Linked DNA regions of Homo sapiens: region 1 is linked to region 2. A link means that fine-mapping ties the variant in region 2 to the plasma level of a protein whose gene starts in the linked region. Region 2 holds a variant in brackets. A gene starts in the other region. All regions are shown on their forward strands.

Region 1 (16,165 bases), not on the chromosome of region 2:
GTCAGGTTCTCCGTATAGCCCTGTTCATTTCTTTTTTTTTTTTTTCTTTTTTCTTTTCCTTTTTTTTTTTTTTTTTTTTTTGAGACAGAGTCTCGCTCTGTCGCCAGGCTGGAGTGCAGTGGTGCGATCTTGGCTCACTGCAACCTCCGCCTCCCAGGTTGGAGCAATTTTCCTGCCTCAGCCTCCCGAGTAGCTGGGACTACGCACCACCACACCCAGCTAATTTTTGCATTTTTAGTAGAGAGAGGGTTTCACCATGTTGGCCAGGATGGTCTCGATCTCTTGACCTCGTGATCTGCCCACCTCGGCTTCCTAAAGTGCTGGGATTACAGGCATGAGCCACTGTGCCCATCCAAGCCCTGTTCATTTTCATATCACTCCTGCCCTACCTCCCTCACCGGGTGATGGCAAATGTCAGAGATAGTGGGGAAGAAAGCACTGTATAAACGCCATGTATCACATAGCTATCCTCTTTTTTTTTTTTTTTTGAGATGGAGTCTTGCTCTGTCACCAGGCTGGAGTGCAGTGGCACAGTCTTGGCTCACTGCAACCTCTGCCTCCTGGGTTCAAGCGATTCTCCTGCCTCAGCCTCCCAAATAGCTGGGATTATGGGCATGCGCCACCATGCCCAGCTAATTTTGTATTTTTAGTGGAGATGGGGGTTTCACCATGTTGGCCAGGCTGGTCTTGAACCCTTGACCTCGTGATCTGCCCGCCTCGGCCTCCCAACGTGCTGGGATTACAGGCATGAGCCACTGCGCCCGGCCCACAGCTATCCTCTTGAACTCTACAGAGGCATGTCACATACCTAGGCCTGGCACCAAGAATGTAATGGAAAAGAGGATGTCCCTGCATCAGAAGAGCTCACAAACTGGGGTTACAGAAGTATAAACAGACAAACTATTATTATTAGTAGTAGTATTTTTTGAGAGGGAGTGTTACTCTGTTGCCCAGGCTGGAGTGCAGTGGTGTGATCTCAGCTTACTGCAACCTCCGCCTCCCAGGTTCAAGCGATCCTCCTGCCTCAGCCTCCCGTGTCTGGGACTACAGGTGCGCGTCACCATGCCAGGGTAATTTTTGTATTTTTAGTAGAGACTGGGTTTTGTCATGTTGGTCAGGCTGGTCTCGAACTCCTGACCTCAAGTGATCCGCCCACCTTGGCCTCCCAAAGTAGTGGGATTACATTGTGCCTGGCCAACAGACAAATTATAAAACTGTACCTGCAGCAAGAGAAGTATGTGTGCAGAACTGGAAACGGAACCGAAGAAGTGCCTAGTTTTTGGGGAAGGGGGTTGTCAAGGAAGGCTTCCCGGAGGACATGACTATTAATCTGGGTTCTGGAGGTGGAATAAGAGTTTTCCCTGCAAAGGGAAAGAAGGCTGCAAGTGTTAAGCCATGGACTCTGGAGAGAACCTAGTCCTTTTTGAGGACTGTGAGTGGTGTGGCCAAAAGACAGAATGCAAGTGAGCCAGTGGCAGGAGGGCAGGCGGATTAAGCAACCAGAAAGTGGCTTTTCAAGGAAGGCTTAGACCCAGACTGAGAACCCGATGACCTTCCTATTACCACCTACTCGAGGAAGCCTTCCCTGGCCCCCCCAGCAGCTTTCCCCATTACAATGCTAATCTTGTGTTGCGATTTTGTTCACGTCAGTGGGGAGCAGTGACCACATCTTCTCATCTTGGCTTGCAGCCTTACTGGCACTGGTCAGGGCCTCCTTAAAAGCTTGCTTGTTGCAAGAATGGGGCTAGTTTCTTTGGAAGTCCTGCCAGGAGTTGCCTGTTTGCTTAGAAACCAAGATTTCAGAAAGGCTTGGAGGTTTCCTGGGCATCAAGCTGTGTGCAGATTTTTAAAATGCTTTGAGAGGTTTTGCAGAGTCCTGGGAGCTTTCCCAACATCTGAGAGCTGTCAGGATGGGGAAGGGCAGGTGTGTCAGGGTTCGGCCCAGAACAGGAGGACAGGAGGCGGGAATGTACAGGGTCCCTGAGTAAGAATGGCTGCAATGTTCGGATTCCAGCCCTGGAGGGTGGCACAGGCTCCTCATTGTTCCGCCCCCTCAGTTCTTCACACTGGCTGAGAAGGAAGGGCTCGGGAAGGCTGAGAGACCAGCTTTGGGAGAAGGGCAAAGACTGCAGGCTCCCTCAAAAGACTATCACAGTCTCAGTCAACCACCCTTACAGAGAACCCCTGGCAGGCAGAGCTTTTTTCTCCCTCCCTCATAAGGTATGACGGGCTCAGTATTTGGAGCCTGGAGACCTAGGTGTCCAGCTACTGATTCACTGTGTGAACCTTGGCAGGTCCATTTCCCTCTATTTCTGCAGCTGTAAACAGCTGGAACTGATGAGAAAGTCAGAGGAAATCATGGAAGATACATAAAAAAGGAAATCAGAGTGCCAAGGCAACAATTTGAATGGCTAACATGGACTGAGCTCATGGACTAGCAATTGCCCATTGCATTTGTTTGTTTGTTTGTTTTGAGGCAGAGTTTTGCTCTTTCGCCTGGACTGGAGTGAAGTGGTGTGATCTCGGCTCATTGCAACCTCTGCTCCTTGGGTTCAAGTGATTCTCCTGCCTCAGCCTCCCAAGTAGCTGCGATCATAGGCGCCCGCCACCAGGCCCAGCTAATTTTTGTATTTTTAGTTGAGATGGGGTTTTGCCATGTTGGCTAGGCTGGTCTTGAACTCCTGACCTCAGGTGATCTGCCTGCCTCAGCCTCCCAAAGTCCTGGGATTACAGGTGTGAGCCACCGCGCCTGGCCCCCATTGCTTTTTTTTTTTTTTTTTTTTTGTGAGACAGAGTTTCGCTCTTGTTGCCCAGCTGGAGTGCAATGGTGTGATCTCGGCTCACTGCAACCTTTGCCTCCCGGGTTTGAACGATTCTCCTGCCTCAGCCTCCCAAAGTAGCTGGGATTACAGGCACGCGCCACCACACCCAGCTAAGTTTTTTGTATTTTTAGTAGAGACAGGGTTTCACCATGTTGGCCAGGCTTGTCTTGAACTCCTGACCTCGTGATCCGTCCGCCTAGGCCTCCCAAAGTGCTGGGATTATAGGCTTGAGCCACCGCGCCCGGCCCCCCATTGCATTCTTATGGCAACCATGCAAGTGGGTCCTCACTGCTGTTCACCAAAGGTTTCTGACTCTCCAGCTATCAGCACACGGTAGGATTAAACTTCCCTGCCTCCTTGTGATGGGTGGGGCCATAAGACTAGTTCTGGCCAATTAGTTGTAATTAGAAGTGAGTACAGGCCGAATGGCTGATGGACTAATGGCTAGTCCACAATTTGTCACTCCCTCCTTCCCTCTGCCACATGACTAGCAATGCACTAGAAGGCAGCCTGGGTCCCAGAGGGAAGAGGGCACAGAGCAGAGCCTTAGTGGACCCAAATTACTGTGGACATGAGACATGGATGAGAAATCAATGTATCATTGCGGCCAGGTGTGGTGGCTCAGGCCTATAATCCCAGTACTTTGGGAGGCTGAAGTAGGAGGATCGCTTGAGGCCAGGGGTTTTAGACCAGCCTGGGCAACATGGCAAAACCCTGTCTCTACAAAAATTAGAAAAATTAGGCTGGACGCAGCTCACGCCTGTAATCCCAGCACTTTGGGAGGCTGAGAAGGGTGGATCACTTGAGGTCAGAAGTTTGAGACCAGCCTAATCAACATGGTGAAACCCTGCCTCTACTAAAAATACAAAATTAGTTGGGTGTGGTGGCACACACCTGTAATCCCAGCTACTTAGGACGCTAAGGCAGGAGAATTGCTTGAAACTGGGAGGCAGAGTTTGCAGTGAGCTGAGATCATGCCATTGCACTCCATCCTGGGCAATAAGAGCAAAACTCCATCTCAAGAAAAAAAAAAAGAAGAAATATTAGCTGGGCGTGGTGGCACATGCCTGTAGTCCCAGCTACTCAGGAGGCTGAGGTGGGAGGATCACCTGAGCCTGGGTAGGTCGAGGCTACAGTGAGCTGTGATAGTGCCACTGCGCTCCAGCTTGGGCAACAGAGTGAGACCCTGTCTCAAAAAAAAAAAAAAAAAAAAAAATCAGCATGTTGTTATCAGCCACTGGGATTTGGGAATGGTTGTTACTGCAGCATAATTTAACTCATTCTGACTGATATAATCTCCATTTTACAGATGAGAGGGGAGCTCAGGGGGATTGACTTGTTTGAAAATCACATAGTTGTAACAAACCCAGGCTTGAAGGACTCCAGAGCCTATGACACTTGTCTGGGAGGCCACCACAATGGTTTTGTGGTTGAGTGGAGGCCTCTGTTCTCTGAGGCCACTTCCAGGCCTATGGATCTTTCCTTTGATGGGAAAGCACCATATGTATAGATAGGAGAGGGCCATTGTCACTTTGGGCCCCTAGAGGGCAGCTGAAACTTGGCCTGTAATTACTGGGCAGGAAGTGTCCTCTAAGCCTCTAAGCAGGGCAGATGGGCAGGAGGATGCGGAGATGAACATGACTCAGGCCTTGCTCTCAAGGCCCTAACAGCCTGGCAGGGAGCGAGATGGAGGAATTGTAGATCTTGAAGTAGAAGAGACCGACCACATGAGGGCATCTGATCCCTATTTTAAAAGGCAACTGAGTCCCAGAAGCACAAGTTAATCTGATAGACGTTGCCTGGTGAATCGTTGGCCAAAGTGGGGAGAGAACCCAGGGCCACTGATTTCAGCCCAAGGCTGCTTATCTCACAGAGATCATGTAATCCAATGGGGCTGGGCCCAGGAAAGTCTCCCTTGCTCCAATCCGTCCAGGCAGAGCTGTGCCTCTCCTTCCCAGCACCCTCTGTTCTTCCTTAAGTCAGGCCAGTTCTCAGGGCCTCAAAGCATGGAAGCGCCAGATAGCTGCCCTCCCCCATCCACTGGGATCCCAGCACGTTGCCCTGGTAACCAGAGCCCAGCCAAGTTTGAGAACCTAAAGCTGTAAGGGGAGAGAAAGGATAAGAAGAGGGATAGGGGCTGGGCACGGTGGCTCATGCCTGTAATCCCAGCACTTTGGGAGGCCGAGGCAGGCGGATCACAAGGACAGGAGATCAAGACCATCCTGGCTAACACTGCGAAACCCCATCTCTACTAAAAATACAAAAAATTTAGGTGGGCGTGGTGGCGGGTGCTTGTAGTCCCAGCTACTCGGGAGGCTGAGGCAGGAGAATGGTGTGATGGTGTGAACCCGAGAGGCGGAGCTTGCAGTGAGTCGAGATGGCGTCACTGCACTCCAGCCTGGGTGACAGAGCGAGACTCTGTCTCAAAAAAAAAAAAAAAAAAAGAAGAGGGATGGGTGCTAGGCCCACACAATCACCATTCAATCATTCATTCATTCATTATTTCTTTCTAAAGAAATTTACCGGTTGGGCACGGTGGCTCATGCATGTAATCTCAGCACTTTGGGAGGCTGAGGCAGATGCATTACTTGAGGTCAGAAGTTTGAGACCAGCCTGGCCAACATGGTGAAACCCCGTCTCTACTAAAAATACAAAAATTAGCCAGGCGTGGTGGCACACACCTGTAATCCCAGCTACTTGGGAGGCTGAGGCAGGAGAATCCTGAGGCTTGAACCCGGGAGGCGGAGTTGCAGTGAGCTGAGATCCCGCCACTGCAGTCCAGCCTGGGTGACAGAGTGAGACTCTCAAGAAAAAGAAACTTACTGAAGCCAATTTTTGCCAGACCCTGGGGCCCAGAGAAGAAGATCCAGGACCTTCATAACTGAGCTTTCCACCCAGGCATGGTGGCTCACGACCGTAATCCCAGCACTTTGGGAGGTGGAGGTAGGAGTATTGCTTGAGCTCAGAAGTTCGAGACCAGCCTGAGCTACATAGGGAGACCCCCGTCTCTACAAAAAATAAAAACTTAGCTGGGCGTGGTGGTGCATGCCTGTGGTCCCAGCTACTCTGGAGGCAGAAGTGGGAGGATCACTTGTGCCCAAGAGGCTGCAGTGAGCCATGATGGCGCCACTGTCTTCCAGCCTGGGCGACAGAGTGAAACCCTGTTCAAAAAAACTAATAACAACAACAGCAACAACAAACGAAACAGAGCTGAGCTAATATGGTAGCCACAGATTAAAATAAACTAAAAAATCCAGTTCCTTGGTCACTGTAGACACATTTTAAGTGATCGGTAGCCATCTGTGGCTAGTGGCTACTGTACTGGACAGCACAGACATAGAACATTTCCATTATCACTGAAAGTTGTATTGCCCAGCGCAGCTCCAGAAGCTCACTCGCTAAAGAGAGAGACACACAGGAGAGCAGACCAGACAACACAGTGTTGTGTGGGCTGCAATGTCCTCCTCGGTAAAAAGCAGGTGATGAGGCGGAGATTAAAGGAGATGCCAGGAGAATGCTTAGCCTAGTTCCTGACTCAGGGTGAGTGCTCGGAGGACATCTGCCATCACCGTACAGGACAGTACTATAGGATCTGTTTACATACCTATCTTCCTAGCAGACTGTGAGCTCCGCCCAGCCCTGGCATGGTGCCGGGCACAGAGCAAGTGCTCAGGAAATAGTAGCTGTTATCAGCACCATTGTTATTATCACCACTGCTATGACAGAGGCAGCCGAGGGCTGTGGGAACACAGAAGAGGGCTCCCATCCCAGCCCCAGGGCCAGGGGCTGCTGAGAGTCGGCATTGCCAGAGCCAGGCTGGGTGGCTTTGTGGTCCCCTCAGGGGCAGGCCTAGGGCGGGGTCCTCTTCACACCCTTAGGGTCTGGGTACAGGGTCCAGCTGGAGCAAGCTGGGGCTCAGGGAATAGTTGTGGAAGGAGCTCTAGCCTCCAGGAACTCCAGCCCCCTTGAGGAAAGACCAGGTGAGTGGGCAAGATGGTCTGAGGGTTGCAGAGCTGAACAGGGCATGAAGGGCACAGAGGCAGAGCCAGAGGGAGACTCGCGCTGGGACTACCAGAGTGCAGCCATATTTGGAGTACCCCTGTTTTTACTGCAGACTCCCCAGGCATCAAAGTCTGTGGGAGACAGAGCAGATTTGGGGAGGGCAGGCTGCAGGGAACCTCCCTGCAGGTGGCCGTGAGTGCCAGCCTGGCCGTTACCAGCCTCCCATGGCTCTTCAGGATTCCAGAGGCTCAGAGCAGCCATTCACAGCCGCCCACTCCTAGGAAGCCAGCCCCTCCCTGCACCAGAGCCCAGCCCAGCACGGTCTCCGGGGATGTAGCTGGTGGGACAGTGAGCAGAGGGCTGGGCCCTGTGCCTGGGGACTGTGGCCTGGAGGCTGAGCAGGAGCTGAGGAGGGGACCAGAGGGACAAGGCCCCTAAGCTGGCCACCATGGCCAGACTCTGAGTGCAGGGGAGGTGAGGGGCCTGCGTGTGCCTTATCTTCCCAGACACACTGGATCCTTCTTGTCCTCTGATCAAGGTAGGTGTGTAGGGGGGTGGAAGGGTGTGGGGGTTTGTGGGGGTGGGAGGGTGGTGGGGGTGGGGTGGGGAAGGACCAAGCAATCCATGGAAGATGGGAGTGCAGTGAGGGGATGGGGAGTCGGGTGATGCCCTCGGACACCCTGTCCTCTGGCCTGCTCTGTGTGTGGGTGTGCACACTGAGGGGAGCTGTTTGTGGCTAAGTGCAGGGTAAACGTGTGTGCCCAAGTGGATGTGGCTGTGCAGGAGGGGGCAGAAGTTCAGGGCTGCAGTGATAGGCCAGGTGGGAAAGGGTTGGAGGCCAGGACAGTCTTGGATACAAATATATGGCTGGAGAGGGATGAGGGGCTGGGGGCACCATTGTGAGGGGTGATGCCTTCCCTGTCCGGTGCCCTGCCTTCCCCGTCCCTGCTGCAGACCTCAAGGACCTGGCTACATGATCACTCCCCTCCCCATGAGCCCTCTGGAACTGACTCCTCCCACCAGCCCTGGCCTTGTCCCCCAGCTGCAGGTCCCAGCCTGCTGTGTTAAAAGCAACCAAACCAACTTTTTTCTAGAGGGTGAGTTACTTGGAGTCCAGAGTAGCAGGGAGTGGCCCATCTACTAAGACCACAGCCAGAGTCCTGAGCTTCATCCTCGACACCTCTTTGTGCCCACTCCCTACCCTGGGCAGTCCCGCCACTTCTACCCCTGTGCAATGCAGCCTCCTCCAGCCCCAGCCCTAGCTCTGCCCCTTGCACAGCCCACGGAGCAGAGAGTTTCAACTATGTCCTCATGGGATCCTGGCTTCAATTCTGTTCCCATCTGATCCCTCTGTCACACTGCCCGAGTGGCCGTTCCCACCTACAGATCGGAATGGGTCACATTCCCTGGCCTAAACTTTGCTGTAGCCTGGCCTGGACCCCAGCTCACCTGCAGCCTTGGCTCTCCCCTCCCTGCTACATACAGCCTAGGAGCCCCATGTTGGATTTTCAGAAAGATGCCACACTTTCTCACCTTTGGGCCTTCTGTAGGAACAGCCCCAGCTCAGGTCTAGCCTCCCGCCTTTCTACCCCTAATGCTTAGCTTGGTGGAGCCCTGCCTACTTCCTTGCCTGGCATCCCTGGGCATGGCAGCCTCTTCAAGGGCGGGGACCATGGCTTGTTCACCAGATAAGCTCCTTCTGTGAACACTCACTGCCTCTCCATTTCCCATCCTCACCTTCTCCAGGGCTGGCTCTGTTTCTGACTCCAGCACTAGGCCAGCTCAGGGCTCTTTCTTGGTTCTGGGGCTCTAAGCCAAATTGGTCCTCTCTCATCCTGCCACCTGGACACCTGAGCTCCTATGTTGGCTGCTGTGGGTGGGAACCCACAGCCCTTTGGTTCTTTCTGGAAGAGAAAGGGAGAGACGTCTCCAGTAAGCACTGCCCTCCTCTGGAGTCCCTGAACATGTATGTGACCTCCATAGAGCTGTCCACAGAGACAGGGGCCACACTCAGGCCCAGGCAAAGGGAGACGTAAGCCCAGCCTGAGATGCCCCATGCTGGAGGCAGACTGCTCACTGGACGTGCCCACCCCACTGTGTGGTGGCTGGCCGGGGTGGGGTAGGTATGAGGTACAGATCAGTCTGCAGCAGGTAGGAGCCGTAGGAGGACAGGAGGAAGTTACATGCATCCTCCACTAAGGACTGGACAGTCCCCAGAACCAGGCCCCTTCAGACCCGGCATGCTCAGCTGCTGGTCAGGAAGGGGAGAGCTGAGACCTCCAGGCCTGAGCTCCTCACCCCTGCCTGGCCTCTTCTCTCTGTTGATTGCCTCAGGGAAAGACAAACGACCTGGATGGACCACAACTTTGCTCCTGCTCCTCCAGAGATGCAGTCGCATGGAGCTCCAGGCCCGGGAACCTCCTTCTCCCATAGCCATGTGCTGGGGCGCCCTATCCGCCCCTCGAGACTCCCTGGAGGAGGGTCCCCCCTCACCCCCGTCCTCAGGAAGACCATCCATCTGGATACCTTCCCCCAAAGCCATATCCCACAGACCTCCAGCCGGCTGGGCCTTGGAGCCAGGACCCGGAGTGTGCCCCCACAGGAGACGGGCATCGCTCTGGGGGCTTCCTTGAGCCCCCTGCCCACCAGCAGCCTTGTACCCAGGAAGCTCAGCTCCATCTCCTTGACTCTCCATCAGAACAGCCAGGCACGGTCCCTGGATCGCCCACTTTCTCACTGGGAAGAGTTGCCTACCCCAGGAAAGAAGGCTGCTCCCCATGAAGGAGGGAGGGTGTCCTCGCCAGGCTCGCCACCTGTGACCCTAGTGCCAGGGGGCAGGGTCCACTCTGAGGGCCCAGGGAACCCAGGTCTGACCAAATCCAACAGGATGCTTGCCACGGAGAAGCCCCTGGTGAGTTCCTACCTAGCCTTACCTTTCCAATCCCGGTTAGCCCAGAGTGCACCAGTCCTTGCAGAGCCAGGCTCGTTGGGCCAGGGGCACCTTGTCTCAGTGACTGACCACATGCCTACCAGAGCTTCTCCAGGAAAAGGCAAGCCCCGGGCCAGGGGGATCCCCAGACCCCGGGGGCGTCTCCAAAGGGCCAACACGACTGTGAATTTGACTGCTATGGACACAAGGACAGACGCAGCCAGACATTTAGCCACAATGGCCACCAACAGACCTAGCTTGGCTATCAATTTAGCCACACCAAACACATCCCAACTGGACACAGGCACAGAGTTCCCTGCCCTGGATATCAAGCTGGGCACAGCCAGAGACTTGTCTTCGGTAGGGACAGTCAAGTCAGGCAAAACCGTGAACTTGGCTACAGCAGGCACAATCAAGCCGGGCACAGCCATGAATCTGACTACAGTTGGGACAACCAAGCCAGGGATGGTCATGGATTTGATAGCCTCAGAACCAGACAAGCTGGGCAAAGCCATGGCTACAAGAAGCACAGCCAAACCAGATATGACCACAGAGGGTATAGCCATGGATTCAGCAACATCAGACCCAGTCAAGCCGGACACAATCACAGCTACAGTGGGCACCAGTAGGTTGGAAACAGCCATGGCTTTGGCCAGAGTGAACAGAGCCAAGCTGGGCACGGCTAAGAATTCTCTTGCTTTGGACACAAGCAGGATGGGCACAGCTGTGGGTTCAGTTGTGCCAGTAACCCCAGACCCAGCCACTGGGAAGACCACACTGGGCAGTGTTAATAACCTAACCATATCAGACGTTGCTACATGCCTGCTAATGCCAAGCAGATCCACAGACCTAGCCCTGGACAACACTAATGCTGCCATGGACAGAGCCACAGAGCCTGCCTCACTGGACCTGGCCACAGAATACAAAGGTAAATGCAGAAACTTGGTTGGGGATGGACTAGGCTGCCGGGAGGGGGAGGTGTGTGAGCTTGGAGATGGATCATGCTTGCATGGGTTGAGAAACGGAGGAAGGACTCTAAGGTCAGGGTTGAATGGGTTGGGAGAAAAGGAAATGGGGGTTGTAGGGCCAGACATAGGGACTGTACCCTGAGCTGGGTTCTAACCTGCCAGTCTGAGGTCAGGCTGAGGGAAACTATCAGAAAGAAGGTTTTGGCCAGGTGTGGTGGCTCATACCTGTAATCCCAGCACTCTGGGAGGCTGAGATGGGAGGATTGCTTGAGTGCAGGAGTTCAAGACCAGCCTGAGAAAAATGGTGAGACTGTCTCTACAAAAAATAAAAAATAAGGGGCTGGGCACGGTGGCTCACGCCTGTAATCCCAGCACTTTGGGATCTGCCCAAGGCGGGCAGATCACAAGGTCAGGAGATCGAGACCATCCTGGCTAACACGGTGAAACCCCGTCTCTACTAAAAGTACAAAAAAAAAAAAAAAAAAAATTAGCCGGACGTGGTGGCGGGTGCCTGTAGTTCCAGCTACTTGGGAGGCTGAGGCAGGAGAATGGCGTGAACCCGGGAGGTGGAGCTTGCAATGAGCCGAGATCATGCCACTGCACTCCAGCCTGGGCGACAGAGCGAGACTCCGTCTCAAAAAAATAAAAAAATAAAAAATAAGGGTTGGGCACAGTGGCGCACACCTGTAATCCCAACATTTTGGGAGGCCAAGGCGGGTGGATCACTTGCGGTCAGGAGTTCAAGACTAGCCTGGCCAACATGGTGATACCCCGTCTCTACTAAAAATACAAAAGTTAGCCAGGTGTGGTGGCACATGCCTGTAGTCCCAGCTACTTGGGAGGCTGAGGCACGAGAAGCACTTGAACCTGGGAGGCAGAGGCTGCAGTGAGCCAAGATCGTGCCACTGCACTCCAGCCTGGTGACAGAGTAAGACTCTGTCTCAAAAAATAAAATAAGATAAAATAAAATAAAAAATTAGCAGGGCATGGTGGCATGCATCTGTGGTCCCAGCTACTGGGGAGGCTGAGGTGGGAGAATTGCTTGAGCCCAGGAGGTCGAGGCTGCAGTGAACCATGATTGTGCGACAGAGCAAGACCCTGTCTCAAAAAAAAAAAAAAAGAAAAGAAAAAGAAAGGTTAACAGGGGTAACTTGTGGAGGAGCAATTATGGTGAGTCCTCCTTTCAGCATCTCCCGGGATTGTTTGTTTCCTGAAGACCTGGAATAATCAGGTGATCAATAGGTGTGTCCACCTTTAAAAGCAGTGGCTCACACCTGTAATCCCAGCACTCTGGGAGGCTAAGGCGGGTGGATCACGAGGTGAGTTGTTCAAGACTAGCCTGGCCAGGCCAGGCGTGGTGGCTCACACCTATAATCCCAGAACTTTGGGAGGCCGAGACAGGTGGATCACGAGGTCAGGAGATCAAGACCATCCTGGCTAACAAGGTGAAACCCCGTCTCTACTAAAAATACAAACATTAGCCGGGTGTGGTGGTGGGTGCCTGTAGTCCCAGCTACTTGGGAGGCTGAGGCAGGAGAATGGCGTGAACCCAGGAGGCAGAGCTTGCAGTGAGCCGAGATTGCGCCACTGCAATCCAGCCTGGGTGACAGAGTGAGACTCCGTCTCAAAAAAAAAAAAAAAGAAAAAAAACTAGCCTGGCCAACATGATGAAACCCCGTCTCTACTAAAAAATACAAAAAATTAGCCAGGTGTGTAGGCTGAGACAGAGAATTGCTTGAACCCGGGAGGCGGAGGTTGCAGTGAGCTGAGATTGCGTCACTGCACTCCAGCCTGAGCGACAGAGCGAGACTCTGTCTCAAAAAGAAAAAAAAAAAAAAAAAAAAAAAAAAAAGCAAGCCTCCTACCTCCTACGTGAAAATACTGACTAGCGCTTTAGGAAGTTGTGATTTGTCTAATAGGTAGTCTCTGCAGCCTCCTCTGGATGTGAGATAATGACCTCACTCGAGACTTTCCAAATCCATTTACGCTCAGCCTTTTAGGAAGGTATCTGTTGCTTAAAAGTTGTCTTACCTGAATGTCTCTTTCTTGGTCCCCCACCCCCAGCCCTTTAATCCTGAAAGGTAAGTTGGAGCCTTGTATATATGGAAGTCCTACACAGAACTCTAAAATAGGGCAACACAAGGGCTGGACATTCATTTGGTCTTAGAAAGCCTGTGACATGCCTAAAGTCACACCAAAGCTGGCTGGTGGCAGTAAGCTGATTGGAATCCAGATTGTTAAAATCTCTACTTTGGGCAGCCTCATTCCCAACATTTCAAGGGCTCAGAGTTTTTGGGTCTGGAAAGGTGCCTAGAAGGCATCCAGTCTAATGCCTTAATTGAGTCGTTAGATTGTCAGACCCCTTTCCCTCCACCCCACACACTCAGTCTGGGCACCTCACCTAAATTCTGGTCTTCACTTCTCCCTACGAGATCTCAGCTCTCCCTCCATCTGCAGCCCAGCCCTGTCTCCTGAAGTGCAGATGTGGGCAGCCAGCAGCCTGCTAGGCTTATCTACCCGGATGTCTCCCGGGCATGTCCAGAGGTAGCCCTTTTCTTCTTGAACTGACTCCTGCCTCCCTGATCTCACTCTCTCAGCTGTAGGCATTGCCTACCTTTTATTAGGTGCCTAGAAACCCGGGTATCCTCTTCTTCCTCATCTCTCTCTTGCCATCTCATCCAGTCTACTTCCCACCTTGTTGGTTTACCTCCTCAGTACTCAACTATCTGGCTGGCTGTCCCCTCCTCTCCATCCTTCTGCCCCTGTGAGGCCACCTCCCACCCACCAGCTTGTTCCCTGTCCACACACAACTGCTGCAACGACTCCCACATTGAATGGCAGCACTTTCGGCTTAATATTCGTCAGTGACTCACCATTACCTTCCATTAAAATCCAGCTTCCAAGGCTGCGTGCGGACTTCTCCAGCCTCTTATTTAGCTCTACACACCTGTCTGGAATTTTCTCTGCTTCAGCGACACCAAGGACTCTGGGCTGTCCACCAGCACCACGCAGCTCTCACCTCTGGAGACCCTCACCTCTGCTGTCCTCTCTTTGCAGAATACCTCTCCCTTTCCATTCTTCCCTTCCACTCCCATTTGCCTTTCCATCTGGCCCTCATCTCCTCCAAGAAGTCTTCCAAGCCCCCTCTCCCCAGGGTGCCCACCTGCCTGCACCCTCAGTTCCCTGTGTGCACCCCGGCCCCTGCATTAGGACATTCCATCTTCCTGTCTCCTCCACTAGACCCAGAACCTTCGAGGGGAGGGATGGTTGTCCTCACCCCTGTGAGGCAATATGCTGTCCATTAGTATCCACTGAATGCGTGAAATTTTTTTCTAATGGGCAAACTGAGGCTCAGAGAAGTTCCTGTCTGGCTCAAGGTTATTGGTTCATCATTCTGGAGCAGGGCCTGGAACCCGGGCCCCTGACTCGGCTCTACAGGCACCCGCGCAACACCCCAGCCCCCGCGTGACTCACGCGCGCTCACGGCCGCCCGCAGCTGCCACTGGTCCCCTGCGCCCCTCCGCCCGTCCCCGCCGCAGCCCAGTGGGTAAGGGGCGGGGAGCAGGTCCAGCGGGGAGAGACGGGACTGGGATGCAGGCACCTTTCCGGGCCTGGCACCTGGAGCCCGCGGGGGCGGCTCCTGGACCGCCCGCAGCGTGGACCCGGGACCAGTTCCCGCTTGCGGGCGCGGGCGCCGCGGGAAGGGGAGGGGCCCTCGGCGGGGCCGACGGGCGCGCGGTCACGTGGTGCGGGTGGCAGCGGCGGCGGCTGGCGGCGGCGGCAACGGTGCGCGCGGACAGGGGCGGCGCGGCGCCGAGCGAGCCGAGGCGAGGTCCCGGGGAGGGCGCGGCGGCGCGGGGCGCAGGGGCGGCGCGGCGGGGCCGCGGGCCGGGCGGGTGGGAGGAGAGCGCGAAGGGGCGAGGCCCGTTTGCAGGGGCCGCTCGGCCCGGGGAAGCCCGCGCCCCGCTCAGCCTTGCAGCCCCGCGCCCGGAGCATCTCCCTGGAGGAACGGAGACAAAGGAGGATTCATGTCCAAAGGTAGGGCGGCCGGCCAGGCCACCGGCACCCGCCAGGAGGAGGCTGCGGCCCCGGCCAGCGCGGCTGGAGGCGCTCCTGGGGGAGGGTTTCCGCGCCGAGGAGCCCACGCGCGGTGACAGATGCGCGGACACACGCACACACGGTGGCACCCACCTCGAGAGAGACAATCTTGGAGAGAGGCAGACATAGGACGCGGGGAGACGCAGGGACCCACGGACACGCAAGCAGGGACCCAGATGCGCACAGAAAGCCCCATGCTGGAGTACACCAAGACACGCACACACACACACACCACGCACAGGTGCCAGGGCCATGCCAGCCGGATGAGAGACCTGTGCACTGATACATACGTCCCCTCCCCCGCAACCCCTACAGGCACACGCTGAGACAGGCACCAGCTGGTGGTCTCCAAGGGAACCCGTTGGCCTCCAGAGGACTGGGATGGGGGAACGGGTGTCCCAGGGCCCTCTGCTCCTGCGAATGGGAAAGGACCGAGAGAGCTTTCGTGATTCCTTTTCCCAGAGCCTAGGGCTGGAACTGGGGTGGGCTGGAATTGCCTTTGTGGGGGGCGGTGGGGTCCTGAAGGCTGCGGGGGGCTGAGGAAGATCCATCTTCAGGGTGGAAGGAAGAGGGGGGGCCTGCACTAAGCAGGTGCTATTTTGGAAAAGTACCCTCCCCCAGCTGCTACCTTCCTAACACAGGGGTGGGGTCCCTGGGCCAGACAAAGCCAAAGCCATTCATTTGCCTGTAAAAGGAAGTGCCAGGGTCTTTGCTTAGCATGGGAATGGAGGGGCTGTTTCTTGGCTGCAACCGAGTCAGGTGGATGGTGCCTCTCCCTGGAGCACTGATGGGGCAGGTAGCTTCTGGCAGAGGGTGCTGCAGGCAGATCCCCCTTCTCCAGGGGCCCTAGGAGAGCCAGGAGCTGAGGGGGGCCCCAAGGACCATCTAGCCAGGATGGCAGACTTGAGCTGCACCCTGCTGTGACCCGAGCTCTTCCCCACCCTTGGGGAGCCCCCCTCCAATCCTTGTTGCAGAGGAAGGAGGAGGTCTCAACAATTCTACTCCCTTGACTGTGGCGGAGACAACAGCCATTGCTCACTGGGGGGTCAGCTGCTCTGCATGGGGAGAAGCATCTGAGGGAAGAGAAAGGTGATGTGTCTGATACCTGCCTCACTCTGAAGTTCTCATTCACTCATCATTCATTCATTCACTTATTGAGGAGTGCCTGTGGTATGCTGGGTAGACTGGGGCACAGAGATCAATAAGACACGGCCCCGCCCTAAAGAAGGGTGAGAACTAGTACGTATTTGTGCCAGATAATTTACATTCTTCATTCTGTATAACCTTCATAGAAACCCAGCAAGGTAGGTTCTATCCCCAGTTGTCTGAGCAGAAAATGAGGCTCA
Region 2 (16,165 bases):
AGGGATTTCGCTCTGTTCTCACACTTGGAAGGAAAAGAGCCGAGATTCTACCCATGGTCTCTGGATTTCCAGCTCCCGGCCCCTGAGTGAACAGGAGAGCCCCGTGAGGCCTGGGTCCTGGATCTAGAACCTTCTGGTGCAGGATGGGCAAGCCTGGGCGGGGCCACAGTCACGTCGTAGCACGAGCAGGGTCATGGTCATGATTGGAAATGACAGCCGCCAGCTCCAGGGTGGGCCCTTTGATCCTGGGCTGGGCAGTTTTCCTCAAGTCAGTGTCTTTGGAAATTGCAGGAGAACGTGGCCCCCCTGGACCTCCTGGGAAGGCAGGACCACCTGGGCCCAACGGTAAGGAGGGGACAAGAGTGAGAAGCGGCTTCAAGGCCCTTCCAGACCTGGCTGCAGAGGAACGTGAGGCGGGTCTTCTGGGGCTGCCACGCTGTCCTCGCCAGAGCCAACGCCTGCCCAGGCAGGGCTCTTGGGGCTTAGTCCAGGGCAGGGGTCTCAGTGTGGGGGAAGGGGTCTCAATGTGTGTGTGGGTTCTCAGTCTGGGGGAGTGGGGTTATCAGTGTGGGAGCTGGTCTCAATGTGTGTAGGGGGTCTCAGTTTGGGGGAGTGGGGTCATCAGTGTGGGGGCAGGGTTCTCAATGTCGGAGGAGGGGTTCTTGGTGGTGTAGGGAGAGGTTCTTGGGGTGTGTGTTGGGGGAGGGGTTCCCGGTGGGCAGGCTGTGGGGAGGTGTTATCAGCAGGGAGGGAGGAGCTGTCAATATGGGGGAGAGATTCTGGGATGGGGGAGAGGTTCTGATTATTCGGGGAGGGACTTTTAGTGTGGGGAGGGGTTCTTAGTGGGGGGGCTGTCTGTATGGGGGGGTTCTCAGGTAGGGGAAGGTTTTCAGTGCAGGAGCATCTGCCCTGTGGGTGGGCCTGAGACCAAATCCTGTCCCTCTAATGTGGAAGTGGTCTTGAGAGGGTGGGGGGGGATTGTCTGCCCACCTCTCTAAGCCTCACTCAGTCCTGGCCTCTGTCCCCTGAGCATGAGGCCCTGTCTTGTCCCCTCCTCCTGACTCTGCTTGAAAACCAGGATCAGCCCCGGATGGCTTGGAGAACCATGCCAACAAGTTCCAAACACAGAATTAGTGGAAATTCTCTGCTTTAAAACAAAGAATTTTCTGATATATTTTCTTGAGGAATAAATTTTGAGGAATCGGAGAAATACGCAGTAGGAAATTGAAGCTCCCTTTACTCACTCACCTTTACCCACAGACCTACTCAGAATAAGACCACCCTACACTCACCAAACCCCAGGCTCAGTCATGGGTTGTGTCTAAACATAAAATACGCAGGTTTGGTGCCCACACCGCAAACAACACTCCCCACATCATATTACTGTGTCCACCAAGATGGGCTGTTTGCAGGCCTTGGGGCCTCAGGAGAAGCCTGAAGATCCAGGCTTCCTTTAGTTGGCATGTGGAGGCCTCAGCAGTCTCTGGGATGGTGGCCTCTGCTTCCCCAGGAACCTCTGAAAGGGGTGCATGTGGTGGAGGGGCCAGTGTAGGCATCCCTCGAGGGAAAGAAAAATTTGGTCAACAGAACCAGGGTCAGGGACTCCTTGGCTGGACCCATACCATCACCTCCTGGGGAGGCCCAGAAAATGGTGTCCGCGGACCAATGGGGGCTGAAGGGCTCTGATTTCCAAACTGTGACACGTGTGTCCTCTCTCATCCATGAACAGGAGCACCTGGGGAGCCCCAGCCGTGCCTGACAGGTGACTGACCACCCCCACACTCCTCCCACGGCTTGTGGCTGCCCTTGGCTGGAAGTCCAGGGTCATACGACGCCATTGCCAGAATGAAGTGACAAATATGAACAGAAGAAAATGGTTGCTTGCCCGTTTCCTTGTCCCCTAATTATTCAAGGAAGTGACAAATATTGTCCAGACAACTTACATACACTCCATGGCAATTTTTTTCTATTTATAATCTACGCCAGAAGGCCGGGTGCCCAGGAGCTGAAGGTGGGGGTGACACTGGGAGGTGGGAGGGCCAGGCCAACTGGCTGCGGCCATCACAGCTGCGTGGCCCTGGGGGCCGTGTCCCTGTCCAGGCCTCAGAGTCCCGCTCTGTTCATACAGACGCCTATGGCCCTGCTTCTTCCTCCCAGGCCTCCCTCCTACTGCCTGTGCCCTGCCCAGGGCTCCTGTCCTGCAGCCATTCCCCGGGTTCCCTTCCCAGGCCCGCGTACCTGCAAGGACCTGCTAGACCGAGGGCACTTCCTGAGCGGCTGGCACACCATCTACCTGCCCGACTGCCGGCCCCTGACTGTGCTCTGTGACATGGACACGGACGGAGGGGGCTGGACCGTGAGTGTGGGGCTGGGCAGAGGCGGTCAGCCTGGGAGTCCCGGAGGCCAGGCTGCACACCTGGTGGGAGAACACACTCTGGAATTCTCTATTCTCCTGGTCGGGGACAGTCAGAGATGATGGGGGAGATGACCGGTGGGTAAAAGTCCAGGCCTTTGGGGGAGGCTGGGAGAGGTTGGGTGCTCTCCTGCTGTGTGGCTTGGGGCTTGTTGCCTCCCCTCTCTGAGCCCCCATTTCCTCCTTCATCCTGTGGAGTCTGTGAGGAGAACAGGTGGGCGTGCTGGTGACCCCGCCTGTGATGCTCTGCCAACTACAAATGCTGCTCCTCTGGAGGGCGGGTCCCCCGTGCTGTGGGACGTCGGCCTGGCCCCCCCGGCTCCTGTCCCCTGGCTTCTCCACAGGTTTTCCAGCGGAGGGTGGATGGCTCTGTGGACTTCTACCGGGACTGGGCCACGTACAAGCAGGGCTTCGGCAGTCGGCTGGGGGAGTTCTGGCTGGGGAATGACAACATCCACGCCCTGACCGCCCAGGGTAGGGCCGCTGCTGGGGCTTGGGGGTCGGGGGCCCTGAATGGGGGTGCCCCTGCCTCTTGGGCCTGGGCTGCCTGGAACACAAGAGCCTCTTGGCCCACAGGGGATTGGGCCCTGAGCACACTCAGGGTGGCACTGGGACCTCCGAGGGCTTCGTCCCTGCTGCAGGCTCTGGCAGCATCGGGACGGGAGAGGGTCAGAGCTCTGGGATGAAGGCCTCTTCAGGTCTTGGCCCCACTGGCATCTCAGGTCCTGAGAGGGGAAGGAGGGACACAGTGGCCCCATAGTGGAGTTTGGGCCCAACCCCAACTCTGCCTCTAATCCGCTAGGATTTGGGAGTCAAGAGTCTTGCCCTGCTGCTCAGCACACCCTGCCGGGTCAGAGCTACACAGGCCCCGGGGATGCTGCGGTGCTCTCCGCCCTCTGCCTCCATGGAGTCCAGACCTCCTTCCAGGCCCTGCCCCAGATCCCCAGCTCCCATGTCTAAAGGTAGAGAGCCCTTCCGCTGAGACCCTGAAACCTTTCTCTAACAGGAACCAGCGAGCTCCGTGTAGACCTGGTGGACTTTGAGGACAACTACCAGTTTGCTAAGTACAGATCATTCAAGGTGGCCGACGAGGCGGAGAAGTACAATCTGGTCCTGGGGGCCTTCGTGGAGGGCAGTGCGGGTGAGTGTCTGCTTGGGGCTGTGTGGCCTGGGCTTCTGAGGGGGGTTTGGGAAGTGGAGAGAGCGTGCTCAGTGTCCTGGTAGCCTTGTGGAAGAGGCCTCACCTCTCTGAGCCAATTCGTCCATCTCTACATGCAGACACTAACATCTGTGCTCTGTGTAGCATGGGGGTCATGGGACACATCAGTGTATGACTGCAGAAATCCCAGCAAGGGCATCTGGTAGGAAGGAAGTCTCTGCAGAGCAGGGACCTATGCACGGTGACAGCAGCTGATATCTCTGCGGGGCATGGCTGGAAGGGGTCTGCCATGATGGAATCCAGAGTAGAGAATGATGATCCTGACCCCTGCCTCCTGTTCTTCTGTGAAATAAACATAGTACACATTAGGTGGCAGGGCTAGACCTAAAGACAATTTGCCAAGACCACTGCCAACAGCAGGGCAGTATTCACTGGAGTCATGGATTGCACTTCTTGGATTGTGCAGTGCACAACCTGCCTAACCATACATGGAGGACACACCAGGCCAGGCCTCAGGTATAAAGACTTATACTGTCTGTAATGATGTTACTGCCTGTAACGATGCTCACATTTCCTCCTGCACAGGAGATTCCCTGACGTTCCACAACAACCAGTCCTTCTCCACCAAAGACCAGGACAATGATCTTAACACCGGAAATTGTGCTGTGATGTTTCAGGGAGCTTGGTGGTACAAAAACTGCCATGTGTCAAACCTGAATGGTCGCTACCTCAGGGGGACTCATGGCAGCTTTGCAAATGGCATCAACTGGAAGTCGGGGAAAGGATACAATTATAGCTACAAGGTGTCAGAGATGAAGGTGCGACCTGCCTAGCCCAGGCCGGCCTCAGGGTCAGGACGCCTCCACACATAGTTGGTTGGGGGGTAGGGTTGGGAGCTTGGCCCTACGGTTTGTAAAAGAAACACATGTCGTGATTCTAAATTGGGTTTGTCTTGCTGTGCGGAAGAGGTTCAAATCCAGCTCTGTTTCCGCAATCAACCCTTTCAGATTTGTGACATTAACTCACCTCAAACCTCTGTCTTTCCTTGACAATGAGTAAGAATGTGTTCCTGACCATGCCAGCAGGAACCTTCCTTAAGGACAAATACAAGACTTTGAAGCTGCGATGGGCTCAGAGTGCAGCCCTGCTCAGGTCCCTGGGCAGGCTAAACGCCTTCCTGGGGCTCGACCATCTGGGCTTCTCTGTGAGCTGGATGGCAGGGAAGTCAGAAGGCACATTGGAGAGGAAGTTTCTCTTGCACTCAGAGATGCCGTTGCCTGTCCAAGGCCCCCAGCCTCGTAGCCGCAGCTCTGCTCACTCTCCCCCGTCACCCAGGCTTCCTGCCGCCTGCTGTCCTGGGTATTCGTGGGATCTGCTCGCTACTTCCTCACAAGCCGAAGCAAGAGTGGCAGTGTGCCTGTGACTCCCTCATCAAAACGGAGAGAGTGGTTACATGAGGCAGGTGTGAGGGACCCGAGCACTCCTGAGGAGGGAAGAACACTCCTCTTGGCCATGAGTGTCCATCCCAAAGCTGCCCTGCAGCCTAGCCCAGTGCAGATTGAATCAGAAAGCCAAAGCCCCTTCCACCCGCTTCTCTCAGGCAAGCTGCCTGCAAGAGAGAAAAGTGTATTAGTGCAGGAGCTTGTGTCTGCTGAGGATGGCACCTGGCCCTCTCCTCTCACCACGTCCGGGTCCTCCTGAGGACCGGTCCCCTGTCCCCGGTCCCCAGCCAGCTCAGCCTGACCAGGCTTTTAGAGGCTCCGCACCCCAGCATCGGCCAGTGCTGACCCTTGTACGGCTGTTTGGGTCCCCGATCACTCTCATAACAGCCCTGCCCTTGTCCTATACCCTCTACTCAGAGAGGATCCAGAAGGGTCCAAGGAGGCCATGATCCCTCCCTGAGCTTTTTCACGCGGGCCCCCTCCTTCCCCTACGAGGGTCCGTCCTGGGTCTTAGCTGGTCTAAGCCCTACACAAGTCATGGAGAGGGCTGTGTGTCTGGGACTTCTCGGGGGAGAGTGCACTGTTTCCTCTGAGTTCCTGGAGGGGGTGCGCCATGAAGATCAGGACACAGCCATCTTCACCTTCCCTCCTCACTCTGGGTCCGAGGCCTGGGATGAGCCAGGACAGCGGGAAGCAGGGATGGCCCTGGGCGTGGCACTTCCTTCCTTCCTGGGCCCGCAGGAGGGGGCCACACCACCCACCCAGGGGGCTGACCCGTCCTCAGGACAGAAACTAGCAAGCTGTCAAACCTGAGGGTTTATAACTAAATGACGGGGTGCTGCCCCTGGAAATTACACCCAGACATCTCTTTTCTCGTAGACCTGGGTCCCTAGCTTTTAGACAGGATGACAAATCACTGACAGGTGCTGACTTTACATGCACTGTGGCCTCACGCTTCAGCCATTCACTGCCAGGCAGTCTTCTAGGGCAGCAAAGAGCTCAGCCACACAGCCCGGGCCACTGTCAGGATGAGACCTGGCGTCAGACCTCCTCTCAGCGCCGCTTACCCCCCATTCTGGGCATTTCAATCTCCAACAGGAGATTTAAATGAAGAAAACACGCACCTCACACAGCTGTAAAGGGAGGAACTGGGAATTTCTCCCAAATCTTGACCCTTGAGTTCTAGAAATGGGGTTCTCCCTGGAATGCATGATGGCATTATTCTGGAAGGCAAAAATAAAGCTATTTAATATAGAAATGTTTTTAGCCTGACAAGCCAGAGATTTTTAAAAATATTGTTTTTTTAAATTTTCTTAATTGAGAGATGAGCTAAAAAGTAACTTTTTCTAAATATTTAATGTAGCTTTGCTATACTTTATAAATACTGTCAAGCTTTGGGGGGGTTTGTTGGGATAAGAAAATGTACTTATAAAAATGCAGTCAGTATGTCAGGAGGCTGGCGTAATTAACACAGCACAGGGAGGTCATGGAGGCTTGTGTAATTAACCTAACATAACATAAATGTATTTGCATGACACGTGCATCGCATGTGCATACGTGTGTGTGTGTGTGCACCTGCGGGGCCTCTGGGAGGTGTAACTGAGGCAGGCATCGGAAGGGCTCTGTAGGACCAGCTGGTACTGGGTGGGCACCTGGGAGCCACAGGTGCCTGCTTCTCCCATCCCCTGAAAGACTTGGCTCCTTCAGGCCACCAGTGCTGCCTCAGGGTGTCTGGCTCCCCTCCAGAGCAGGGGGCTGAGCCAGGTTGGAGCCTAGGCCAAGGCCAAGAGTGTCCCCAGGGCTGGGCTGTCCCTGTCCCTCTGCTGGGGACCGCTGCCTCCCTTCCTGCTCTTCAGAGGTCTCAGGCCTCTGCTGTCGGGAGGGCTGGAAGAAGGGGCAGCAGCTGGCAGGGGGCCTGTGCCCACTAGACCCTAGATTCTTAACTGTAACTGTGGTTTCTGTGGCCAGGCTGGGGGTGACAGAGGCATTCAAGCCAGACTCCATCTTGAATAGGGGCTGGGTGAAATGAGGCTGAGGCCTGCTGTGCTGCAGTCCCAGGAGGTTAGGCATTCTTAGTCATAGGAGGTTGGCAGGACGGGTATCACAAAATACAGGTCAGGATGCGGTAAAGAAGACGGCCAAATCCCACCAAAACCAAGACAGTGACAAAAGTGACTTCTGGTCGTCCTCACTGCTCACTATATGCTAATTATAATGCGTTAGCATGTTGAAGGACACTCCCACGACAGTTTGCAAACACCATGGCAACTTCCGGAACTTACTATGTATGGTCTAAAAAAGGGAGGGACCCTCAGTTCCCTGCCCCTTTCTTGGAAAACTCATGAAAGATCCACCCCTTGTTTAGTATGTAATCAAGAAATAAGTATAAAAATAGCCAGTTAGCAGTCCTCAGAGCTTCTCTGCCTATGGAGTAGTCATTCTTTTGTTTCTTTACTTCTTTAATAAAGTGGCTTTTACTTTATGAACTCGCCCCAAATGCTTTCTTGTGAGAGGTCCAAGAACCCTCTCTTGGGGTCTGGATAAGGATGCTTATTTTCCCCAAAGCTGTGAAGCCTTGCTTTGGCTGGAGTAACTGACATTGAAACCGCCACTGTAAAATTATGACTGAGACAATGAAAGAGATCTGACTTAACCAACTCCATCTTGCTTCTAACCTCCAAGCTGTGCTTGTTCATTCCTAGGCATAGGCTGAACTAACTTTGGGAGGAACTTAGTTTATAGTTCAAAACAAAGATGATAATAGCCCTTTCCCAAAACCTCCTTCTTGCCTGAGGACTAGACTCCTTTTGTAGGACAAATTAGCCACAAGATTAGAAATTATGGTTTAGGAGTCATGCAGCTGAAGGCTACACGATTCTGACCCTCTCTCAACTGCTCCTGAAGTCAGTACTTGGGATATTTTGCAGACCTTGCACTTGATGGATCAGCTGGCACCACCCAGCTCAATAAACTGGCTCGTCTGATCTTGTGGCCCCCACCTAGGAACTGACTCAGTGCAAGAAGACAATTCTGACTCCCTGTGATTTCATCTCTGACCAATCAGTATGTCCAGCTCTTTGGCTTCCCCCCAACCCTGACCAATCAGCACTCCTGGCTCATTCGCTTCCCCCCAACTCACCAAGTTGTCCTTAAACACTCTGATCCCTGAATGCTCGGGTAGACTGATTTGGTAATAATGAAACTCTAGTCCAGTATCCTGCACGGCGGCTCTGCGTAAATTACTCTTTCTCGATTGCAATTCTCCTGTCTTGATAAATTGGCTCTGTCTGGGCAGCAGGCAAGCTGAACCCACTGGGTGGTTGCAACATCAGGAAGTCCCCGTCCTTAGGATGAGAAAGGAGCCCGCCCTGCAGGGCTGGAACCCCATGTATCAGGAAGGTGAAGCAGTGTACTCAGAAAGCTCCTCTGCAGGAGAGAGGGCCATTTAACAAATCTAGGCCCAGGGCAGTCCTCCACCTCTGAGGACTCTCCCCATGAAGGTGTGATGCTCTCTGGGAATGGGAGCACAACTTGACCCTTCCCTGGGATCCTCATTCTCCACCCTGCCCCTGCTACACCTTTTCCAGACCTCATTCTCACTCGCCTTCACCTCTCCAGAATCTGATGTGCTTTCTGGTTTTGTCTTCCCTGTGCTCTGCCTTCCGAGCAGTAGCGGGTGCTCTGTGGAACCCTAGGACCCTTCCATCCTGCCCTTGGGCTCTCAGCCCTTGGGCGATGGATTTGCTGCAGCCTGATCCCCACCCCCTCTTCCTGTCCAGTCTTCAGGAGGAACTGACCGAGCATGGGGCTCTGTGAGGCCTCCTGGCCTTGGTGTCAGTGGCCCTGCCTGGGGCCCTTTGGTCCCTGGTCCTGTTCAGCTGCCTGTACGTGTTTATGGAGACATTGGCCACGTGGCACTATGTGTGGCTTGTGCTCCCAGGCAGGGTCTCAGAGTAGAACTTGCCTCCTTCAAAAGCAAAGTCTCTTCATTTCAGCTGTGAAGTGCAGTGGCATTTTGCCCTCACAGACCTGGGCTGTGTGGCCTTGATCTGTGACCTGACCTCTCTGAATCTTCCTTCTCGTGTAACATGGGATGGCAGGGTGGATTTGAAGGCCCCGGGGAGTAAGAAGAATGTGCTCCCACACTGGGTTTGCAATGTGCTGAAGGGCCAGGAAGCGTAGCACAGCATCACACACCCGGCCCAGCTGCCAGTCCTCCTCCTAGGGCACCCCCTGCCCAGCTGACAGCCCTTGCCCGTGAGGCCTCCCCTTCTGTTCGGGCCTTTCCCTGGGCGCAGGAGCCCTTGGCTATAGGTCTTTGTTGTGGGCTCCAGCCCTGCCTAGCCCTGCCTGGCCTGCCCCTACACCTCCTGTCACCTGCCTGTCTCCTTGGGCTGAGAGTCCAGGCTGTTCTGTTGAGGGTGTTGGGAGCTGTGCCTTGGCATAGGGGTGGCGGGCAGGGATTGACTCTGTTGTGTATCCAGACCTGGGAGAGGAGGATGGAGCCACCTGCTGTGGGCCAGGCTCCAGCAAAGGCCTCCCTCACCTGCTGCCCACACTAGCCAGGGCGGGCTCCCTGGGGTCAGAGCAGAGGCCAGGCTGTCTGCCTTTATTGCCTTCAGAATCTGCTTGAGGGAGAACTGGCTCTCTTCTCTCTCTCCTGGCCTGAGGGACACTGTCT[C/T]CCTCCAATAAGCTGATGGTTGGGAGCTGTGACTGATAGGCACCCAAACCCTGAAACCAGGTGTTCTTGCCTCCATTGACCCAAACCCCCGTGTCCCCTGCCCCTTCCCTACCCCTCACCATGGGTTTCTGAGTTCTTCCAATGACTCCATGCCTTAAGTGCAATTTATAAAAAAAAGAACTGGGAAAGGGCCGTCTTGTGGATTCCAGGCTCAGCTGGCTCTAGGCAGAGCGTAATGTTGCTCACCAAAGGTAGGATGTGGTTTTAGGCTGCATTCACAAAGGCCTGACATCTAGAACAAGGAAGATGCCACACTCGCCTCTGCATAGGTCACTCCCCACCTGTGCCCTGGGTTCTGAGTTTTGCACTTTACAGCAACCAAGATGGAAACACTGCTGGGGAATGGGAGTGGAGAGCTGGAAAGAGCATTCTGGGAAGTGGCCGAAGGCAAGCAGGGAGTAACAGGCAGAAAACATGGCCTGCTGCAGAGCATGAACTGTGCATTTTGGGAGGTGACCCCACGCTAGGAGGACATCACTGTTCCAGGCTCCTGGGCACTCAGGGCCCCTCGCATCTCTTTGTCCCCAGCCTCTCTGGGTGTCTGTTCTTGTCCCTTTATTCCTCTGCGTCCTAGGCTTCTTTCCTCTCCCAGTAGCCTGTAGTCAGAAAGAGTGGGGTGGCCAACTTGTGCCAGTGAGCCTGGGCCTGCCCAGTTTTAGCACTGAGCATCCATCTCCTGGAAAAGCCCTAGCCACCAGGATGGTCGGTTGTCCTAAGAGGAGTCTCAGTGGCCCCAGTCAGATGCAACAGGTAAAAAATCCCCAAAACCACTGGGCACAGTGGCTCATGCCTGTAATCCCAGCACTTTGGGAGGCCGAGGAGGGTAGATCACAAGGTCAGGAGATCGAGACCATCCTGGCTAACACGGTGAAACCCCGTCTCTACTAAAAAAATACACACAAAAATTAGCTGGGTGTGGTGGCGGGTGCCTGTAGTCCCAGCTACTTGGGAGGCTGAGGCAGAAGAATGGCGTGAACCTGGGAGGTGGAGCTTGCAGTGAGCCGAGATCGCACCACTGCACTCCAGCCTGGGTGACAGAGCAAGACTCCATCTCAAAAAAAAAAAAAAAAAAAATCCCCAAAACACTGCATGCCCTATCCTCAAAGTCAGGAAGACACAGAGTTCAGGACACCTGCCCCACTGACCTTCACCTTCTCTTTTCTTCACTAGAATGACACTAATCACTTAGTGAAGAAAGACTAAGCCAAGCCCTTCTCCCACTACCCCCATGGAACATCTGCTGGGTGCACAGCCCTCTCTGGAGTACAAGGCAGTGAATTCCTGCTCTGAAGGAGCCTGCCCTCTCACCAGGAGAACGAGGCCTTTTCCAATAGCATCAGACAAACGGCCTAAATGGAAGACTCAAAGCAGTGGCTCCAGTGAGTCCTGTCCTGTTTCTTTCTTCCAGGCTCAGCCTGAAGTTCTCCTGAATCCTTATAGGAGCCAGAACTCCCCAGTTACTCTCTCACTGCCTGTCTGACCTGAGAGAGAGTTAGGAGGCGGGACGTGACTCTGGAGGCAGGGATTGGACACTGGATCAGATGAGGACTAGCTGAAACAGGGCCAAGGTGAAAGCAGCTTTCAATAAGACACACCCACCCATGTGCCATGTCAGTTTACCATTGCCCACGGCAACACCCAGAAGTTACCACCCCTTTCCATGGCAATGACTTGATGACCCAGAAGTCACCACTCTTTTCCTAGAAATTTCTGTATAAACCACCTTTAATTTGCATTTAGTTAAAAGTGGGTATAAGTATGTCTGCAGAACTGCCTCTGAGCTGCTGCTCTGGGCACACTGCCTATGGGGAGCCCTGCTCTGCAAGGAGGGTAACTTGGCTACTGCTGTACATGGCCGCTTCAATAGAAGTTGCTGTTTGATGCCACCAGCTCACCCTTAAATTCTTTCCTGGGTGAAGCCAAGAACCCTCCTGGGCTAAGCCCCAATTTGGGGCTCACCTACCCTGCATCAGGTGGATGTCCAGATTTAAGTGCAAATACAGACAATTCACATTCCAATCCATACACAAATGGCAAACCCTTGGGGAAGATGGCTGCATCGTTACCGTACGTGCTCCCATCACTCCAGGAGAATTTCTCATTATTGTTTATAAAAGGCATGCCTTGTGGCATTGAGACAGACATAGTGTTATATGTTCACTAAGCCTGTTTTTCCCCCTCCTGAGGGTACAAGAAGGCTGCTTTTCTAAACCTCTCTTGCAGTTAGATGAGACTATATGATGGAGATTTAGTCAATGGGATGTTCACAGAGATTATGCAGACCCCTTTCTAAACTGGCCCCCCAAACCTTCTGTCCCATGTCCTGGTGAGGAACCCCAAAGCCCTCTGTAAACCTGCATTGCACTGCATGGGCCCTGCATTGCAGCACAAGGGGAAATGATGACACTGTGATCCTGAGGGGTTGTTTGTTATAGCAGCTATTTGTGCTTACACTGACTCATGCAGAGATTGGTACCAGAAGTGCAAGAGCGTGGCAACAGACACCTAAAATCCAAGGCACTGGCCTAGCAGCCACATGGTGGGTGGAGGGCTGCAGAGTTTTGTTTGATGAACATGTTGTCTTCAATAACTTGGAAGGCAGTTCCTTGGAACGTCTCTTCCAGCCCCAGGGGATCGACTTGAAAAACAGAACTTTCAGTGTGTGTTTATTTTTATTGGCTGTCTGACTAGGTGTTACAAGAGAAAGAAGAGTTTAGAAAAGAAATTAGCAAGCAGGAAAAAAAATGGATTAAAGAGACTAGGAATTGGAAATCTCGCAGAGTTGGAAAATGCCTGAACATTGTTAGACTCCAAACAGTACGAGATGAGGTTTTAAAAGCACTAGGGTAAGAAGGATCAATGGAATACGTTGTTTTGAACAGAGTGACTCAAAATTGTAGTAAAGATCCTTCCTGCCCAAGCCTGAAAACTTTAAGAAAGACTTCCTTAAGATGAGAGATACAGGGAGGCATGGGGATAAATTGGCAAAGAAGTGCATCAAATCTGAATGAAATATGAGCCAAATTTCTATCTCAGGAAAGAAGATGCCCAGAAGAAATCTGGTTTTTTAAATCACTGCAGGAGTGATTCTTGTCACCATGTCCTGCCCTGGACTATGACCTGGGCAAGAAACAAACTTGCATTGTGTATCAGCCCTGAGATATTAAGATTGCCTGTTAAAATAGCTGCTGTTTCTTATCTTTACAAAGAGGTGGCCCAGGCGAGGAGAGGAGAAACCTGCATTCTCCTCCTGGTTCAAAAACTTACTCTGGGCTTTGTGCCAAGTTGGCCTCCTACTGATTTCTTTAGCTGCACTTGAGCTACTCAGTTTGGTTTTCATTGCCACTGTGACTCATCAGCCAGAGGCCATATGGGTGGGGGGCAGCCAGTTATCTGATTCCTGCAGCTTTACAGGAGGCTGGAAGCCCACCCGCCCACCCCAAGATGTGGCAGAAGTCCCAGTCGGGAAGCCAGCAGAGCCAAGGACAATCTGGATATGTCCATCTGTCCCAAGGTAGCAAACGGGCCCTCCCAGAGCCCTGTGCCTTCCATGACGGCATGGGTGTTCTACAATTTCATTGGGGTTGAAACATGAATCATCAAATCTGAGAACTGGAAATTAAGGGGCAGCTGCTCTGGGTGATCTTACCACCCAGAACTCAAGTCAGTGCCTCTGTAGCTCCCAGCAGACCCACAGGCACAAGAAGCTCACTACTGGCATGAGCAGCCACCAGATCAGTGTGGCCTGGGATGGTGGTGACTGACATTGGAAGGTCTTCCTCTTGTCAAATGCAGTTCTGCTTCTCCATAAAAGCTAATCTTCAAAGTGGGCCAAGTGACCTGTATGGCGGGAAGTCCAAGGTTGTTTACCCCGTACCGTCGGGAAGGGCCTCTACTGGGCTGATGGCCAAGACATGTGAGTCAAGGACAGAACGCACATCCAAAAACAAAAACAAAACCTGGAGCGGCCATCACGTATCCAGCATGCTTGGCTCTGATGAATGCTTGGCTCGGCTGATACCTACCTGGCTTCCCAGCTCCTGTTTCTCTGGGCTGTGCGAGCCTGGATTCTAATTGAAACCCATTTGCGTTAATTCGTTTATCTCTCTTTTCCCTTCCAGGATTGCTGTCTTCTTTAATATGAGTTTGCTCTGATGAGCCAGAAGATCTCCGGGTTTTGTTCGCTTGCACTAAAACCTTCTACTCGGCTCTCTGAAACTAGCACGCTAGTGGTTCCTCAACCTAACTGTCCGTCGGAGCCACCTGGGGAGGCTCTGAAAAATACAGATTCAGGGGCCCCATCCCAGACTTTTAGAACCAAAATCTCAGTGGGTGATGCCTAGAGCCCTCCCTCTTCTCCGCTGATGAGCTGTGGTAGGAAGTCACACAGCAGCACATCAAACAGAGATGACAAGTCAGCCTGCCTCCCACTCCATCTCCAGCCTTCTGTGGGCCATGTGTCCCCAGGCCCCCCACCCATCCCTCAGAATAAAGGTGAGAGAGATCCAAATCAAAAGCAAGTTGAAATGTTTTTAAAACATGCAATAAGGATCAAATTAATTACAGTGAATATTTACATGCCTTAGATAGATTGTTTTATGGGGATGTGGTATTATGACTTGAATCTGTTTCATAAGTGTCACTTATGACACTACGTGAACTTAAAGAAAAGCTTGTACCCTTTGAATCAATAAGCTTACCAGAGAACTTACTCTTGGAAAAAAAATGCAACGTAAGAGAAAAAAGCGTGTACATAAACGTGTTAATTACTGGCTAGGATATCAGTATTCAACGATAAGAGGAAACACTGGATAGATTATAAGTGTTCAACAATAAGAGGATGTCCATTTCCTCCAGTGAGTATTAAATGGCCATTTAAAAAAATGCTCAATGTGCAAGCTCTAGTGACCTGGAAACCTAAGTGTAAAATTAGATCATAGAACTGGAAGTGCCGACTTCTACTTCCAGTAATAATGGGTTAGAAAACAAGGCCAAACTTCCTTCTGAAATCAAAAAAGCTGGGCAAATTTCAGAGATACTCTTCTTAAGCACTAAAGATGATCAGAGTAATGAGGAATTACCAGAATAAGATTCGGCAGAAATAGAAACTCAGAGTGGAGTATCTGTGAGTATCTTTGTCTGGGGTCATTCACCAATCAGAGAGAAGCTTTCAAGTCTGTGTGGGAGTTTTGTCAACTCAGCAGGCTGAAGGGGACCAGGGTACATGTTTAGAGCCTGCCAAGAATGGAGTTTCAGGTTAAGGAACCTGCACTTTAGCCTGACAACTATGTACATGTGCATCCCAGAGGTAAGGATCACCTGCAAGTAAACCAGCTCTCCCCCAAAATTGCAAACTGATTTTAAGTCATATGGGTGCACAGACCATCTCTGGCAATGGCACTGGTTATTAACTTCCAGAACATGCCTGGAGAAGCAAATGAAACCTGTGTTGGAGGAAGACAAAGTATTGCTAGGTTTCAAGTGATCTACATCAACACTTAAAAAACAAAGTTCATAATTTCTATAGCAGTCAAGGTGGCTGTGTTAGTATTCTACTCATGCACAGCAAATTACCACAAACGGCACCCATTTATTAACTCACAGTTCTATGGATCAGGGGTCTGAGTGGGCTCAGCAAGCAAGGTCCTCTGGTTAGAGTCTCACAAAGCTGAAGTCAAGGTGTAAGCCAAGCCTTATGCTCAGCTGGAGATTTGGGGGAGAAGCAGCTTCCAGGGCCATTCAGGTTGTTGTCAGAATCCAGTTCCGTGTGGTTTTAGGAGTAAGGTTCCCATTTTCTTGCTGGCTGTCAGCTGGGAGCTGCTGTCAGCTATTGGAGGCCACTCTCAGGTTCTTTCTAAATGAACCTCCATCTTCAAAGCTTGCAAAAGTGTGTCAAATCACCCTCATGCTGCAAATCTGTCTGACTCCTCTTTTGCTACCTGCCAGAGAAAACTCTCTGCATTTAAAGGACTGTCATGATTAGATTAGGCCCACCCTGATAATCCCTTTTTTAATTAACTCAATGTCAGCTAATTAGCCATCTTAATAGCATCTCAAAATCGCTTTTGTAATGTAACATAACATGATCACTGGCATGATAGCCTGTATTTATAGCACTGGGAATTAGAGCAGAAAATCTTTGGGGTTGAGTTGCATTTTTGAATGATGCTTCCCACAATGGAGTGAGCCCACTGCAGCACGTCAGACATTGAACAAAACACAAATACCTGATGATTTGAAAAGTAACAAAGACAGATTGGAGAGAGAACACAACATTTGTGTAAATAACCTACACAGGGAAAGCGAAACAGAAGTTGCAATCTAAACTTAATTAGGTGCACTGCCTGCTGAAACAACAACAAAGTCAACATTTTCCCAGAAGATGTTTAAAGAATCTCATAACATAATAT

Which allele goes with the higher level. Alleles are on the strand shown, and positions count from the first base shown. The strength of an association depends on the size of the effect and on how common the allele is.
In carriers of allele C in region 2, the plasma level of the protein whose gene starts at base 7,128 in region 1 tends to be higher than with T alone (weak association).

Evidence for each region. PIP is the chance, under the fine-mapping model, that this variant and not a neighbour inherited with it causes the effect. Protein levels are from antibody-based Olink assays in UK Biobank. Linkage for the fine-mapping came from a reference panel and not from the study's own genotypes, which makes the PIPs less certain.
Region 1: it holds the start of SEPTIN3, and the variant in region 2 is fine-mapped to the plasma level of the SEPTIN3 protein (UK Biobank, PIP above 0.99).

What each region holds. Positions count from the first base shown.
Region 1 is chr22:41,962,316-41,978,480 of GRCh38, forward strand. It overlaps SEPTIN3 (septin 3), which reads left to right and starts at 7,128. Exons shown (of 12, transcript NM_001363845.2): 1 at 7,128-7,362; 2 at 9,159-10,681. The coding sequence starts at 9,178. RefSeq lists a silencer at 14,484-14,553.
Region 2 is chr9:134,883,011-134,899,175 of GRCh38, forward strand. FCN2 (ficolin 2) reads left to right here. Exons shown (of 8, transcript NM_004108.3): 3 at 292-345; 4 at 1,730-1,762; 5 at 2,229-2,356; 6 at 2,758-2,887; 7 at 3,420-3,554; 8 at 4,158-4,513. The coding sequence ends at 4,405. Among named protein-coding and RNA genes, the nearest start is that of FCN2, 10 kb to the left of the region's middle. RefSeq lists an enhancer at 6,795-7,295. The variant C/T (reference allele first, on the strand shown) is at 9,696.